Linked DNA regions of Homo sapiens: region 2 is linked to region 1. A link means that fine-mapping ties the variant in region 1 to the expression of a gene that starts in the linked region. Tissue or cell type: whole blood. Region 1 holds a variant in brackets; the other region holds the start of a gene. All regions are shown on one strand. Distances are between the middles of the regions.

The links. PIP is the estimated chance that this variant, and not a neighbour inherited with it, causes the effect.
Region 2: it holds the start of LDOC1, and the variant in region 1 is fine-mapped to the expression of LDOC1 in whole blood (TOPMed, PIP above 0.99).

Annotation. Positions count from the first base shown.
Region 1 is chrX:140,992,630-141,000,737 of GRCh38, reverse strand. No RefSeq gene overlaps it. Among named protein-coding and RNA genes, the nearest start is that of SPANXB1, 5.9 kb to the left of the region's middle. The variant C/T (reference allele first, on the strand shown) is at 3,157.
Region 2 is chrX:141,173,246-141,181,353 of GRCh38, reverse strand. It overlaps LDOC1 (LDOC1 regulator of NFKB signaling), which reads left to right and starts at 4,225. Exons shown (of 1, transcript NM_012317.4): 1 at 4,225-8,108. The coding sequence starts at 4,333. The coding sequence ends at 4,773. RefSeq lists an enhancer at 4,661-5,160.

The DNA.
Region 1 (8,108 bases):
GTCCTTTTTAGACCCAGAAGTCAAAGCCCTATAACTCAATGGCACAAGGACTTTAAAAGCACATACAGAAAGTTACACAGATGGAAGAAAACACTTTTTTAGACCTTGAAGAAAAAATTTTTGGCCTGTCATAGTGGCTCATGCCTGTAATCCTAGCACTTTGGGAGGCTGAAGCAGGTGGATCACTTGAGGTCAGAAGTTCGAGACCAGCCTGGCCAACACGGTGAAACCCTGTCTCTACTACAAATACAAAAATTAGCCGGGCGTGGTGGCAGGAGAATTGCTTGAACCTGGAAGGGGGAGGTTGCAGTGAGCCAAGATTGTGCCACTGCACTCTCAGCCTGGCTGACAGAGTGAGACCCCACCTCAAGAAAAGAAAAAAGAAATAGAAAAAAAAACATTTTTAGCATGAGGCCACAACAAACAGAACACAAGAGAAAAAAAGAAGAAACTTATATGAGCTGAAAATGAGTTGAAAGAGAGAGTTATTATTTTCACCTTTTAAAAGAGGAGAGTAAACCGAAAATGGTGAGATGTGATAAAAGTTAAACTTTGGGTTTAAAGAATTAAAATCTTTTAATTTATTAAGAGTAAATCAACTCCTTAAGAAAATTTTATTGTTCTGATGAATTTTTTTAGTGTTTTTTTTAATATCATAAGCTAAATCTGGAAAGACTATTATAAATAATTTCCCTTTAATTATAGACAACTTTATACAAATCATTTATGACAGCTTGGACTTTCTGTTTTATCCCTTCCTCTTTCTTTATTCCTTTGAGATACAGTCTTCCTCCGTCGCCCAGGCTAGAGTCGTGCAGTGGCGCCATCTCGGCTCCCTGCAACCTCTGCCTCCCATGTACAAGCAATTCTCCTGCCTCAGCCTCCGGAGTAGCTGGGACTACAGGCACGTGCCACCACACCTGGCTAATTTTTGTATTTTTAGTAGAGACAGGGATTTGCCACGTTGGCCAGGCTGGTCTCGACCTCCTGACCTCAGGTGATCCATCCACCTCGGCCTCCCAAAATGCTGGAATTAACAAGCATGAGCCACCATGCCTAGGCTTCCTTTTTCTTAAATAACCAGTTATTTTATTTTAGAACAAAAATTTACCATACAAGATTCTTGCTCAGATAAAATTATTTTCCTTTTAACTTTTTGTGCCAAAAATGCCTGTTCATAACTTCCTTCACATTGTTTTTATTCACTGATTACCTAATTTCATAAATAACTTTTAGATAAGCTTCGAATTAGACAAAAAGTATTTTCCTTTAAGATCACATTTCTTTTTTACAGAAAAATGTTTTCCTATAATTAAAAAAATTGGAAATGACCCAGACGTGTAATAAATATCTACTATTTAGCTTAATATAACTTTGGATTTTAAATTATATGACAAGATATTCTACAAGAACTTATTCTGTTACATTTGTGTAATTAATTAATTTTCTAATAGTTTACCCAGATTACTTATGAAAACTGTAATAGTTACCATTTAAAGTTATGTCCTTGTTAACCATTTTTATAACCTGTGAATTTCAGGTTGTCCTGAGTAAGAACATTAAGGTTAGATAAAGGGTCTTTTTTTGTTTATTTGTTTGTTTGTTTTTGTTTTTTTGGCAATAACTCAGGATTTAGCTATTTTCATTAACCAAACAATATTAAATTCCTTACTTACTAAATTTTACATAAACAAAGATAATTCTTATTTGAGCTGCATTCATAGCTTTAGAACCCTTATGCCAAATGTTGACATCTAGCAGAGATAAATAATGTATGTTGAGAATTCCAAAGCCATTTCTAATTCAATTTCACTAAAATTTTTAAAACCAGCTTGTTTATTGAAGATTTGCTTAAGTCACATGAACTTGAAAAAGCATTTGGCTTAAAGTCTATTTTTCTGAAAAGCATTAGATTTAAGTGCCTTTGTTAAGCCAATTAATTAGAGCTCTTTTCTACATTTTTAGTAGTGAAATGTCATATCCATGACACATAAATACATAGATGTATTAGACATGTAGATAGAAGTAGATCTTATAAATTCCTAAGGCCTTTATTTTTTCCTTGTATTTTAGATTTACAATTTCTTCATAACCTATTTTATTGCCCTAGGCAATTGTCAGCTAGATAGCCCTAAATGTGCATATTAAAGGAACCCTTAGGTAAAAAAAATCAGATAGTGAAATTTGCTTCTCAAAGCACAGAGAGAAAGAGTCTGGTGATGTTAGAAGGAGATTGAAGATGGATGCCAAATCAAACACAAAATTGTAGAAATATATTATAGGATTGTATAAGGAGACCAGTTGTATTTAGATAGGGACTACCTGTCTTTTAACTGGATCTCTGAGCTCTGGGCAGAGCCCACACTGAATCCTAGTTCTCCAAAAAGGGAGAATTACTATGAGGCTACACCAAGTGATGCTTTTACAGTGTCCTTTTTTTTTTTTTTAACAAAGACATTTCTAAGTGTTCAAGCTACTTTCTTCCTTAAAAATCCAAGAATAAACTAATAACAGTTTTAGTCAAAAAATCAAGTAACACAATACAAAAGCAAGCAGCTTAAGATCTGAGATGAACTTGTGTGTTTACACTCTTGGGAAAAATAGAGGTTTCTCCCCAAAAGGGAGTGTGGCATCTTCTCCATTTTCTTTAAGGAATGCAGGCAATTATAAACTATTTTACGTCCCTCATGCAACAGAGGGTAGCAAAATAAAGGAGAGACAGCAGAAGTAGATGAAGAAAACAGAATGTCATCGTCTGAGAAGAAAAAAAAACTTTTGCTCAAAAAAAGACAAGGTCCTAGGAGAGAAGATGTAGAAAGTAGTAAAGTTTTTCTTCAAAATTCATCTTGGTTTAAAAATAAAATAATAGACACTATAAATAATAGCTCCTTACTCTAAAGCCTCCTCTCAACTACTAGTTCTTACACTTGAGCCCAGTTAGTTGCTTTGGCTTACTCAGGCATGTCTGGACAGGCCCAGGCAAGTCTTAGCTCATAGCTTATGCCCCTTCCTTTTTTGAAATGTTAATTGCTTCCTTAAACCTTTAGTAAGCAACTTCTTTTTCTTCTTTGTTCTCCCTTGCACTTACCTGTTTAGGAAAGTTTTAGGTTATTAGCAGATTTGGTATCAGTTGAAGACTGTGGGGTCCAGCTCCAG[C/T]CAATGGATGCAGGACAGAGCAGTAAGGCTGACCCAAATACGTAAATGATAAATATGTCTGCTTTTCCTTTGTTCAAGTGTGCTGTCACGATTGTTCGATCTGCGAGGGGCACCCTTTCTGCAGAAAGTAAAGATTGCCTTGCTGAGAGATCCTTTGTCTTTTCTTCACGACACCGATTATCTGTTTCTAACAGAGGAAAAAATAAAGGCCTTTTAATACAAATGCACACATGCACACACACACACATCTCAGATGTGAGCTTTTAATTAAGCTGACTTTTAACCCTTGAGCTCCTTTAAAAAAATCTTTCTGAATCTCATTACCATATTTTAGCTAGGAAAAATTGCTGATGTTTCAAAAGAAACAAGTATCAAACCAGAAATGGCTTGATTTAGGAAGCAAACCCAGGCTGTTGTGGAAAAAAAAGAAGGCAGAACCTTAGCTATGAAACTGCAGCATGGGGCAACAGCGTTGCTCTTTCAATTTGGCCTGGATAGCAAAAAAGTGGCCTTGCTATGTACATAAAGCCCCTTAAGTACTCAAAATCAAAAATCTTTATTGTTTTTTCTTTTGCTGAGCATTTTTCCTCCCAAGCCCTCCCCACCTTTTGTGGAAATTTAGCCACTTCAGAGGCCTTGTTCCTCATAATTTGGAACTTTCCTTTAGATTTGATCAAGTTGGATAGTTTCCCAATGAAGAAAGAAAGACCAAAACAACAAAAACAGAAACAAACAACGGCAAAAAAAAAAAAAAAAAAAAAAAGTTAAGCAAAAACACAAAATATCACAAAATTTATATGATTACTGAGCACTCTAATGGTAAGGAGAAATTAAGACCAGCTTGTTGTTAATCTTAACTTTAGACAAGACAAAACCCCTATTGAGCTACTTACCTAGTGATGGGTCTCAGGCTGAAGACTGCTGTCTATTACCCTAGAAGCAGGAAAAAACTCAGATTCATCTTCCGTGCTGGGAGCAAGGTCAAACTCATAAGGGAATTACCTGCCTTCCATTGTGATGGAAGCAGGAGAACTTGCCTTCCTTGTTGAAAGCAGGTAAATCTTCAGAAAAGGAGTTGTGCAGCAAAATAAAGTTTAGATTGCAACCAAATTTTTGGAGATCAGGGATTCTTTGGAGGGGTGGCTTTCAGGCCTCAGCAAATTGTCCTATTGGTTTTAACCATGAAGATAGCTCAAGCTGGTACCAAGTACCAGTAGAAGATTTGTGAAAGGTCAGGGGCACCTACACTCAGAATCCCTCTGTGGTTACCCAAATGTGAACCCCAAATATCTGAGACAGGTCTCAGTCAATTTTGAAAATTAATTTTGCCAAGGTTAAGGATGCACCCATGACGCAGCCTCAGGAAGTCCTGATGATACAGACAGGAGACAAGGAAATACTGGGTAGAAGAGGGTGGTTCCCCAGCAAAAGTGCTACCCTCAAGCCTGGAAACCCATGGCTCTAAATGGGAACAGGCATTCCTGTTTTCATGACTAAAAGTTGCCTTTGGACCCACCACATCCCCCTATCCTGTACCTATATAAACCCCAAAGCCTAGGCTCCATGAGCAGACGAGCAGAGGAACAGAAGAGCAGAAGAATGGCAGAGAAGGAGAGAAGAGAAGGAGCATCTGAACATTGAGAGGAGTTCAGCTGGGGACAGCAAATCTCCAGGGAAAGATCATCTTCTGACTCTGTCTCCCTTTCAGCTCCCCATCCGTCCCACTGAGAGCCACCCTGACCACTCAATAAAACCTCCACATTCACCATCCTTCAAATCCATGTGAGACCTGATTTTTCCTGGATGCTGGACAAGAGTTTGGGATACAGAAAGCTGTCACACTGGCTTTCTGCCCTTGTGAAAAGGCAGAGGGTCCATTAAGCTGTTTAACACTTAAGCCATCCGTGGATGGCAAAGCTAAAAGAGCACACTGTAATATACACCCACTTGGGCTTTGGGCTTCACAGGCACCCACCCCTGGATGCTGCCATGGGTCTAGAGCCCAGGAGTGCTTGCCCCAGCTTCTGCACCTGCCTGTCTGTGTGTTCCCTTTCCCATGAGGGGTTTGAACATGCATGGCAGCCAGAGGAGCCACACGCCTGTCGCACATCTTGAGAGGGAGATGAGAGAACCCTCCCATTTCACTGAGACATGTGCCCAGTGTGCTCATGGGTACAGTTTGCTTTTATACATTTTAGGGAGACATGAGACACCAATCAATATGTGTAAGATGTACATTGGTTTAGTCCAGTAAGACCAGACAACTCGAAGTGGGGGTTTCCAGGTTAGAAGTAGATAAAAGACAAAAGATTGCATTATTTTGAGTCTTTGTCAGCCATCCAGTGAATACACAATTTAGCCTGGCTCAGTGAATCTGTATTTTTCATAAACAATAGGGAAGAGGAAGCAATCAGATATGCATTTGTCTCAGGTGAGTGTCAGAGGGATGACTTTGAATAGAGTGAGAGGTTCGTCTACCCTAAGCAGTTCCCAGCTCGGCTTTTCCCTTTAGCTCAGTGATTTAGGGCCCCCAAGATTTATTTTCCTTTTACAAAGAATATTTCATCCAGGCCAAAGTAAGGCCCAGAAAAGAGAATAGGCAAAGCCATCTAGGATACAGGGAGCAGGATATGCAAAGGCAGAGAGGGCAAACAGTGCAATGTGTTTCTGAAAGAGTAAAGATCTTCAACTGGCAGGAGTAAGAAAACCTGCAGCACATAGGTATGATGGAAGTTAGGGCTGCAATAGTAGGTAGGGCCAAAATGCGAAAGGCCTAGGACTTACTTTCCACAATGAGGAGCTAGTATTTGTGTTTTCGCTCGAGACTGACTCACAAGACTCACAAGGCTGTTTAGAAGGAGACAATACTGAATGAGAAAACAGAAGACTGTTGTATGTGGCCCAGGTGAAATGTTATGCAGATCTAAATTAAAGTATGATTCAGAGTCAAACCCCTTTATAATCCTGTTTTTCTGAGACAATGTGTTCTGAATTGAGAACTATTGAAGTTATTAAATGTTATATTTGGTATTCAATACTTGGTAGTCAACACATTTGATAGTTAGTTGTCATTAGCCCATATGCTAAAACAAATGCTGTAATGCAGCTGTGTCACATTTAGTGCAAGTCAGAAACAAAATGAGAAAGAAATGTTAAGTAAAAATAATGCAAATAATTTTTATAAACTTTTATTTAAAAGCATAGATCATATCATATTCCCAACATTAAGAAATAGTATTGCATTCATTACTACTAGGCTTTCCCGCCACCCACCGTTCCATTCTCTGTTACCATGGAGATGGTTAGCTAATTCATTTCATTCTTCTCTACACCGTTTAACACATATTTTAAAAATTTTATTGAGAGATCACTGATTAATTTCCAACAGTCTATGAAATGAAAATGGACAAAACTTCCCTATTTTGATTAAACTGTTTGCCAAATAAAAATGCTTGAGCATGTACCACACTAATCAAAATTTTAAGACTGTCATTATGAAGTATTTTTCCACACAAAAATACGAAAATTATTGTTTTAAGAGTAGATTCCACGATATTTTGTATATAATTGTATGGGAATGACTGTTAGAAGTATTAAAATAAGGAATAGAAAAAGAAAGTTTCCATGCCTGTGTCTGTCAATAGTTGTTTTGTATATTTAATAACACACTGAACAGGAAAATAATAAAGCAAGTGAGAAGTAATAACAAAATGAGGCAGTGTCTATGGAGACACATCAAGTTGTGAGGGGGAGCATTGCTTCAGCCAATTGCTATTGATTGTGTTCAACTGCTGTCTCCTAGCCTAATAGGTAAGCAGAGAAAAAAATTATAATTTTAAAAAATAAATTTTAGAATAAGGATAATGGTCCCTGCATTAGAATACAGGTCACTTCATGCCCACTCACATACAAAGTGTTGTTGTAAGAAAACACGCACATACGCACAGATTTAACCTCATTTTTAAAAGTCAGAAAAATTACATAAAAATGTTTATAGTAGCTTTATTCACAATAGCCAAAAATTGGAAATAGCCCTGGTGTTTAGTAATATGAGAATGAATAAAAAATCGCCGTCATATCCATACAATGGAATACTAAAAGGATGAACTATTGATATTGACCAACAATATGGATACATTTCAAAATCATGCTGCGAGAAATAATTCAGACACAGAAGAGTACATACCCTATGATTCCATCTCTTTGGAGTTCCACAAAAGGCAAAATTAATCTATAGCAGAAAAAAAAAATCAGAACATTTGTGCCCAGGGGTAGGGGGGTGTAGGTAGAGGAGGTACAGAAGGGGATTGACTAGGAAAAAGGCATGAAAGAACTTTTGGGGACAATGGATATATGTTATATGCTGATAGGGTTAAGATTATACAGAAATATGAATTTTGCAAAAATCAGTAAATTTATGCATTTAATTTTACACCCATTTTACATAAAAGTGAAAAAATCAAACATCAAATTCTTAACTATGCATGCTGAAGTATTTAGAAGGAAGTATATTGCTATCTAAAATCCATCAAAAATAAGGGGAATCGAGGCATGGATAAAGGGATGGGCCAGTGGATAGGTATGTGTTAAAATAACTGTAACAAAATGTTAATGGTGGAATCTGGGAAATGGGTGTGCCAGTAATTTATTGCTTCATAGTCCGAAGCCCACTCTTCTTGGCCCAATTTTGTGATTCTCCTCTGGACTCTGCAACTAAATCTCTGCTTTGAAATGGGATCCTTGTTGTCTTTCTCTGACAACCGTGGGTCCTGGAAGGTGACTGCAAGCCTGGATGTGAAATAAATAACTTCCTTTTTTTTTTCCCCCTGTTTGTAATTTGTATCTGCAGCAGTGAGTATTTCAGATACAGCTGATTCCTGTAGTGTTCACCACGGTGGCAAGTTGTTCTTGCCTCCAGCAACTTCCTTTTTTACCATAGGGATAAACTTCTT
Region 2 (8,108 bases), 180 kb before region 1:
TGCAGTCCTCTCACAAATATTCTTTCCGAAGCTGTTTCTGTTCCTGGCTGTATATTTGAGTGCTGAGTTAGTTCACCCAGTCGATGTGTGCACACTCATCTGGTGGCTCAAGAATCATGGGAAATTTTCATGTTCAAGAGAATTTTACAGTCTGGATGCTTGATGTGTACCAGGGCACGGTTTGGAGCCTGAAACATGGTGGTAGTGAGTGCCTTGGACTTGTGCTCTTGCCAAACGGTGGAGTCTAAGCCACCCTTAGGGCGTTCCAACCCAGAGCTGTCCTGATAAATTTTACTGGCCCGAGACAAGTACTCCCTATGAGTACTTGTCACAGGGAGTACTTGTGTCTGCCCCCAGCATATTCACGTTAAGTGGAAAGGAACACTTAAGGGCCACTCGAGAAGGGGAAAGAAAATGAGGAAGGCGACATGCAGCTGTGAGCAGGGTGAATGGAGAAGGAAGTGCTGATATGCATTGGCACTGGTGGGAGAGCCTCACAGGCACCTGGAAGCTGGTTAAAATGAGCATTAAGATTCTACATCTTCTATCAACTGATACTACATACCTCTTCCTGACTGCTTCTGTTGTGAGTCAGTGCTAAGCTGCTTGTCTCCATTCCCTTTCTCCAACCAGGGAAGCACCTCCCAAAGTCACTGCTCAGTTCTGGGCAGGACATTTCCTGTCTTCCAGGGTCTCAGAGCACACTCAGAGGGAACAATAGTGGTTGCCTCGTCTGGTTTCCTCCCTGAATCCCTCTGCTGTGGGGTTGTAGGGAGAAAATTAGGGCAGCATCTGCCTAATCATCTCTGGTTCCCCACTAGACCTGCCTGGGCCCACTGAAGTCACAAGGGTCCAGCACATATTAATTATTCAGAGCAAGGGCATGGGCGGGCTTTAGAGTTAGAGAGGTTGGCATGAAGGTATAGCACCATCAACCTATTGCTTTATTAGGTTTAGATATTTACCTCCTGGGTCTCTGGCTCTAAAATGCCCATTCCCATGTCTGGTCCTTGTGTATGAGTCATTGTGACAGCCCTGCCAATCACCTGGCCCAGTGTCTGCTACAGAAAGTGTGCTCTAGGCCGGGCGCGGTGGCTCACGCCTGTAATCCCAGCATTTTGGAAGGCCGAGGCGGGTGGATCACCTGAGGTCAGGAGTTTGAGACCAGCCTGACCAACATGGAAAAACCCTGTCTCTACTAAAAATATAAAATTAGCTGGGCGTGGTGGCGCATGCCTGTAATCCCAGCTACTCGGGAGGCTGAAGCAGGAGAATCGCTTGAACCCGGGAGGCGGAGGTTGCAGTGAGTCGAGATTGTGCCATTGCACTCCAGCCTGGGCAACACGAGCAAAACTCTGTCTAAAAAAAAGAAAAAGAAAGAAAGAAAGTGTGCTCCCAGGAGTCGAACCCTGAGTACTCTTCCTGTATTAGGGCCTGGATATGAAAGGTGAAGCTGGACACTACCTCTGTCCCAGTCAGGCCCATCCTGTACTCTGAACTGTAAATGGGCATGATGGCCAGAGACCTACTTTCCACATTTCACATCCCTCCCCTCAATCCTTACACTGAATGTTTACGGAGCAGCTAGTAAACACTGCCAGGTGCTGAAGATAAAATTAAGAGTGAGAGTGGATCCCTGCCTGCCAACTTCTCAGGTGGCGGAGCTCATAGCACAGGAGAGGCCAAAAGCTCACATTCCTCCTATCTCTTTTTTTCACTGCTTATCCTTTCACCACTGTGATCTTCCCCGTGTCCCTGCTTGGGGCTTGGCCCTGTTTCTCTGCTCTTTCCCAGCCTCCTACTTCCATGGATGATCATTCAATTCTATCCTAAAGGACCGAATCGAATTTCTTTAAAAATCTATTCAGCCAGTTTTATTACATCAGTCATTGTTTCACAATCGAGACTGATCCATGGTCAGAGATAAAATACACTGAACAATTTTTTTTCTTTTTTTTTTTTCTTTTTGAGATGGTGTTTTGCTCTTATTGCCCAGGCTGGAGCACAATGGCGTGATCTCGGCTCAGGCAACCTCTGCCTCCCAGGTTCAAGTGATTCTCCTGCCTCAGCCTCCCAAGTAGCTGGGATTACAGGCGCCCACCACCACACCTGGCTAATTTTGTATTTTTTGGAAAGACAGGGTTTCTCCATGTTGGTCAGCCTGGTCTTAACTCCTGACCTCAGGTGGTCTGCCCCCCTCAGCCTCCCAAAGTGCTGGGATTACAGGCATGAGCCACCACGCCCAACCTTACATTTAACAATTTGAAGAGTATTTTTTGACTCTTTGTGCAGCGACAACTTCTGATTTTCATCTCAGCATCTTCACTCTGGGATGATTTTACTCGCCAAACATTAATGAAGCCTCTACTCTGGGCCAGAACTTTTCTAGGCATTAGGGATAGACCAGATAGCAAAAGCAGTGTTTGACTTATATATTCTAAAATGGAAGCAGATGATGAGCAAAGTACTGTATATACATACGACATGGTGGCCGGTAGCACAATAAATGTTATGTAGATAAATGAAGCAGAGTAAAGGGTTACAGATTGGGGGCAGAGAACAGGGTGCTCTGATAGGTCCGGTGGTCAGAAAAGTTCTCTCTGAAAGCAGTAGGAGGAGTCAGGCAGCCAACTGGGATGACAGCCTTGCAAGGCAGAAGGAATAGAAGATGCAAAGGCTATGAAGCCAGAACTGCTTGATGGGTGTGAGAATCAGCAAGGAGGACAGTGATTAGAGCACAGCAGAAACTGGGAAGAGGCACAGGATAGAAGGAGGGGCCTTGTAGGCCTTGGCTGCAACTTTGCTCTTTATTCTCAGGTGAAACTGTTGGAGGATTTTGAGCAGGAGAGTGAAGGGATCTTTTTTTTTTTCTTTTGAAACGGAGTCTCGCTCTGTAGCCCAGGCTGGAGTGCAGTGGCGCTATCTCGGCTCACTGCAACCTCTGCCTCCAGGGTTCAAGCAATTCCCCTGCCTCAGCCTCCCGAGTAGCTGGGATTACGGGCATGCGCCACCACGCCCAGCTAATTTTTTGTATTTTTAGTAGAGACGGGTTTCACCCTGTTAGCCAGGATGGTCTCGATCTCCTGACCTCGTGATCCGCCCGCCTCGGCCTCCCAAAGTGCTGGGATTACAGGCGTGAGCCACCGCGCCCGGCCCTAATTTTTGTTTTAAAGGATTCCCGTGGCTACTCTATGGAGAATATACTATAGGAAGAAAAGAGTGAAAGCTAAGTGATTAGTTGCAGCAGTCTGGGTGAGAAAGAAAGGCTAGGAATCAGGGTGGCAGTGGCAGAAATGACAAGACGTGATTGAATTGGCAATATATTTGAAAGCAGAGCCAACAATTCATGTTGGCTCTAGAATCAGGGATCCATTCAAAGTAGAAAAACAAAATTATTTAAAAACACAAACATCTTAACAGTTCATTTTTAAGTACAGAATAATACCCAGTGGCCAACGGCACTAATAGCAAGACAAGAAATAGAGAATCAAAGATATGTGGGATGCCTGCAATTGACTATTGGATGCTGATTTTGCAGAACTTTTTTATATCTTGTTACTTAGGTTTTGTGTGTGTGTGTGTGTGTGTGTGTGTGTGTGTGTGTATACCATATTATTTCCCTACTAAAGAAGTCACTGTTTAAATACTACCTTTTTCATGAAAGGCAGGACCCCCTGAGGGTCTTCATGATTCTAAAAGGAAGTGTGACTCCCACAGGGCAGCCAGCAGTGTCAATACTTCTCTGAGTGAGATTTAAATAAGAAAGAAAATGTGTTAATAAAACATCAAGCCAAGAGAATCTAGTGGCCACAGACCCACGAAGGAACACTGAGTTGTGCAAGCTACCTAGGTAGAAGGGTGGCTAATCCTTTCAGTTTGAACAAATTTACCTTCTCTGAGACCGGACTCAGCGCTCGCCAAGTCCTCTGCTAACGCAGGCCCCACAACTAGGAGCTAGGGGAGCCTATCCCAGCCTTTAACTGCCCGCCGAGAGACCTACCACAAGCCGGTGGTTCAGCGACCCAGCGCATCCTTTTCCTGGCCACGCCCTCTTTGTCTACACCCTTCCCATCCCGGCCACGCCCCCACGCCGCCGCGGCCCCCCCACTCCCAGCCTAGCCACGCCCCTCCCCCGTCGCGCCGGCGCACCGTCCGTCCGAATGGCCTCGTGGGCGGAGCTTGCGTAGCCTCCCGGACCCCGGCGCACACCGCCCCCCGCCCCCCGCCCCTGGCCACCAAGCGCCTCCGTGGACACGCACTTCCTGCGAGGGCTCCGTGCGCACCTTGGCCGAGCCGAACCGAGCCGAGTCCTGTCCTTCCAGGCCGTTCGCAATGGTGGATGAGTTGGTGCTGCTGCTGCACGCGCTCCTGATGCGGCACCGCGCCCTGAGCATCGAGAACAGCCAGCTCATGGAACAGCTGCGGCTGCTGGTGTGCGAGAGGGCCAGCCTGCTGCGCCAGGTACGTCCGCCGAGCTGCCCGGTGCCCTTCCCCGAAACGTTTAATGGCGAGAGCTCCCGGCTCCCCGAGTTTATCGTGCAGACGGCGTCTTACATGCTCGTGAACGAGAACCGATTCTGCAACGACGCCATGAAGGTGGCATTCCTAATCAGCCTCCTCACCGGGGAAGCCGAGGAGTGGGTGGTGCCCTACATCGAGATGGATAGCCCCATCCTAGGTGATTACCGGGCCTTCCTCGATGAGATGAAACAGTGCTTTGGCTGGGATGACGACGAAGACGACGACGACGAAGAAGAGGAGGATGATTATTAGGCCCTCGACCCTCGGGCCTCGGGGGGGAGGGCCCTGCACGCCGCCACCCCCTCCCCGCAGCCCTCACCCCGCCAGGAGCCACTGCTCTCCCCCTTGCCCTCCGGTCCCCTTACCTACCCGCGCCCGTCTGCTCTCTCTCTTCATTTCTCCGTAGTGCTTGTCTTTGTTCCAGGAATAGCGCTCCAGTTACCTGCTGCTGGGGTCGGGGCTGGAGCCTCACTCACTCGGAAGTGCTTGGAAGTGTCATCTACCCTGGCCATCCCCGGGATCCCTCCCCTGCTAATCTGAACTGTGTCCTGAACCCCAGCTATTGGCCAGGCCCCTGTTACAAACTGCGCAGACCACCCGTAGCCCTGCTGCTGCCACCTGCCCTGCTGCCAGGCTTACATCTTCCCAGAGAACTATGCTGCCACTTCACATCCACTCACCACATCCCACCTACAGACTACCACCTTTCGAGATCAGGACCAACCTGGAAAATGCCAGAGTTGGCTATGCCTTTTCAGACATTGATTTGGACAGCTCACCAACCCCTGAAGGGGCCGTTCAGCCTGGTTAGTTTTCTACCTACTCCGAGTGTCCTCCCCTGCCCCACCAGATTGCTGCAGGGGCGCGGTGTGCCTGGCAGCCAAATTGTTGACACTTCTTTTTTCCTATGCACTGGTTTTACACAGCTGTCATTTTTCTTTCAAAATTGCAGCAGTCCCACAGATGTGTGCATTTGGACAAATAGTACTTAAAAACAAAACAAACAAGCACTCAGCCCAGCTCCTCAATACTACCTGGAAAAAGCATTGGCATTATTTTCAATAAATATCAAGCACTAAAAAAAGAAATGATTGTCTTTTAATGGTTAAGTGCTATCACTGGCCTCTACCACTGTCACTCTGACTACCATTATTCCCGTGGAAATCAGGGAATACAACCAATCCTAGTATTCCCCGCTGTCATCTCCAGGCTGCTGGGGACAGCTACCTCAGGGCTTTGTCAGGGTTCTGATGCTCCCTTCACCAACGCATTTCTTAAAGCCCTGGCAAAGGGTGTGTTCTCTGGGTCCTCCAGGGTGGCGTGGTTAAGGGTTGGCTGAGCAGACGGCAAAGAGAGCAGTATTAATAATTAGACCATAACAATAGGCGTAAACCTGGACATATATATGTAATGCTCCTAATTCTCTGAGCTTTTGGATTCCTTAACACTGTGCCAGGGAAGTTCTGCCCCTTAATCCTTATTGCCTATGTGCAGCTGTTGAGTTCAGACTCCAGAGAGCCAACATAGTAGATTGTCACTTTCAAACTCCAAATAGCCAACATGTCACTTTCAGGTGCTCCAGCTAACATTAAGTCCCGGATCCTGGGCAAGTGCACCCATAAAGATATAGCCTGATCTTAACAAACATTTCGTTCTCCTTGGACAGACATCCTTAGAATTCCCACTCATAGATGTGTCCCAGATTCCTCCCTATGGAAATTAGCAAGATGCTTGGTTATCTCTTAAATCAGACCTTGTACTGCTATCTAGGGGCTATGCTGAGATCTCTGGGCCTGGAGGGTTCAGAGCAGTGAAGGGGGTGGCTGCTGAGAAGAAGCTGCATACCTGTGTGAGGCCATTGCTCCAGGTTAAGTCATTGAAATGTTTAATGCAGAGCAGCTTGGTTGGGGATTTGAGAGGACTGCCTCTTAGAAAGGTTTAGGAGGATATGAGGGGTTCAGAGTTCTCTTTTATATCTGTCCAGATGTCCTCATTGTACCATGTCTGGAGCCAACTTGACTTTATAACCTTTAATTAATTTAGATAACACATTTCCGTACTGTTTAAGGCCTTTTGAGGCAAGATATTGTATTTGTACTGGTAAACCTCAGTGTTGATTAAATGAGATATGGGTCTTCATATTAATCACCTCATAGGTGCGGATTAAATGAGATCATACCCATGAAGCATTTAGAACTTTCCCTGCTACATGGTGAGCACTCAGCAAACCATGGGCTGTTACTCCTGGGCCAGGGAACAGAAGTCTCAGAAAGCAAGTCTCTGACTCTGAGCCTGGCTTTAGTAGGAAAATGTCAGCGTGAAGAGGAGCAGAGCAGGTTCAGGGAGAATGGAAATGAGAGCATGATAAGACCCCATTTACTTTTTGGAGTCTTATATGAAGCAAGAAACAAAGCTGTTTTACGTGGTGGACAGGCAAAGTTCAGGGTAGGAGTTATATCTCACCCCTAGGATAGCTGTTTCTGGAGGGTGGGGACAGGGTTGCGTATGACTTAATAAAAGAGGCTGAGGCTTGGGTGGAAATGAGATCTGGGGCTCTTCAGGGAGCTGCCGCCTCCAAATCTGAATCAAGGAGACAGCTGGTTATTTAGAATTCATTGATCACTTCTCCCAGTCTCCTTGGAAAATATACAAAACCCCTTGGAAGAGAGAGATTATATTTGAGACATAATATGTGTGAGGCCAGATAATTACACTTTCTTCCTAACTAGAAAGGCCTTGAATTGGGGATAAATGTGGAAAAGTGAGCAAGATCTAAAAGGTAAAGGATCCAGTGAGACCAAAAGTCATTTATTCCAAACTGATTATGGCCCAGTTATGCTGAGTGGAGTTACAGAAACATCTTTGAATAAAATGTGATCTCTGCCTTCATAGCGAGTCCAGTCTGCTGCTTTTACTGTGCCCTGGGTCAGAACTTTGATGATTAGTTACAGGAAAGGGCCAGGAAGAGAATCTGGGCTGTGATTAGATCTGGGAATGACCTTTCTGGGGTGGAAGTTGAGGACATATGAGTAGGTGTTCTGTGGAGGAAGGGAGGTTCAGTAAGGATGCCATGCCAAGGCAGCATCTGAATGGCATCTGGGAGAACTAGGCCAGGGAGCTTCTGTGATCTGAAGTGTACATTTCCTGAGTATGTGTGCATGTGCACATGAGCTTGCTGTGACCCAGTATGTGTGTGCTCTGTGTGTGTGTGTGTTAAGTGATGTCCTTCTTACATCATGGACAAACAGGTTATGCTGTGAGATGCAGAAAAGGGATTCTGGTTACTTTGGGGGCAGATTCTGCAATAAAAGCGCAGATACTGGCAAGGGCTCCACCACCCAGGGAGGAATTCATGATAATGGCATAAAGCATGGCAAAAAAGAAGGAAGAAGTAGAAGTATGTCTAAGGATAAAAGTGCCACTTTGATCAAAACTATTAAAAATAGGTAGGAATGCTGAATAAATATGAACTTAGACCCTGAATTCTCATTTTGGGCGTAATAGACTTGAAATGGCCGCTGAAATTATACTATCAATGAAATGAAATTAGTCATATTAAATGTCGTAATCATTTAATCGTATTAAAT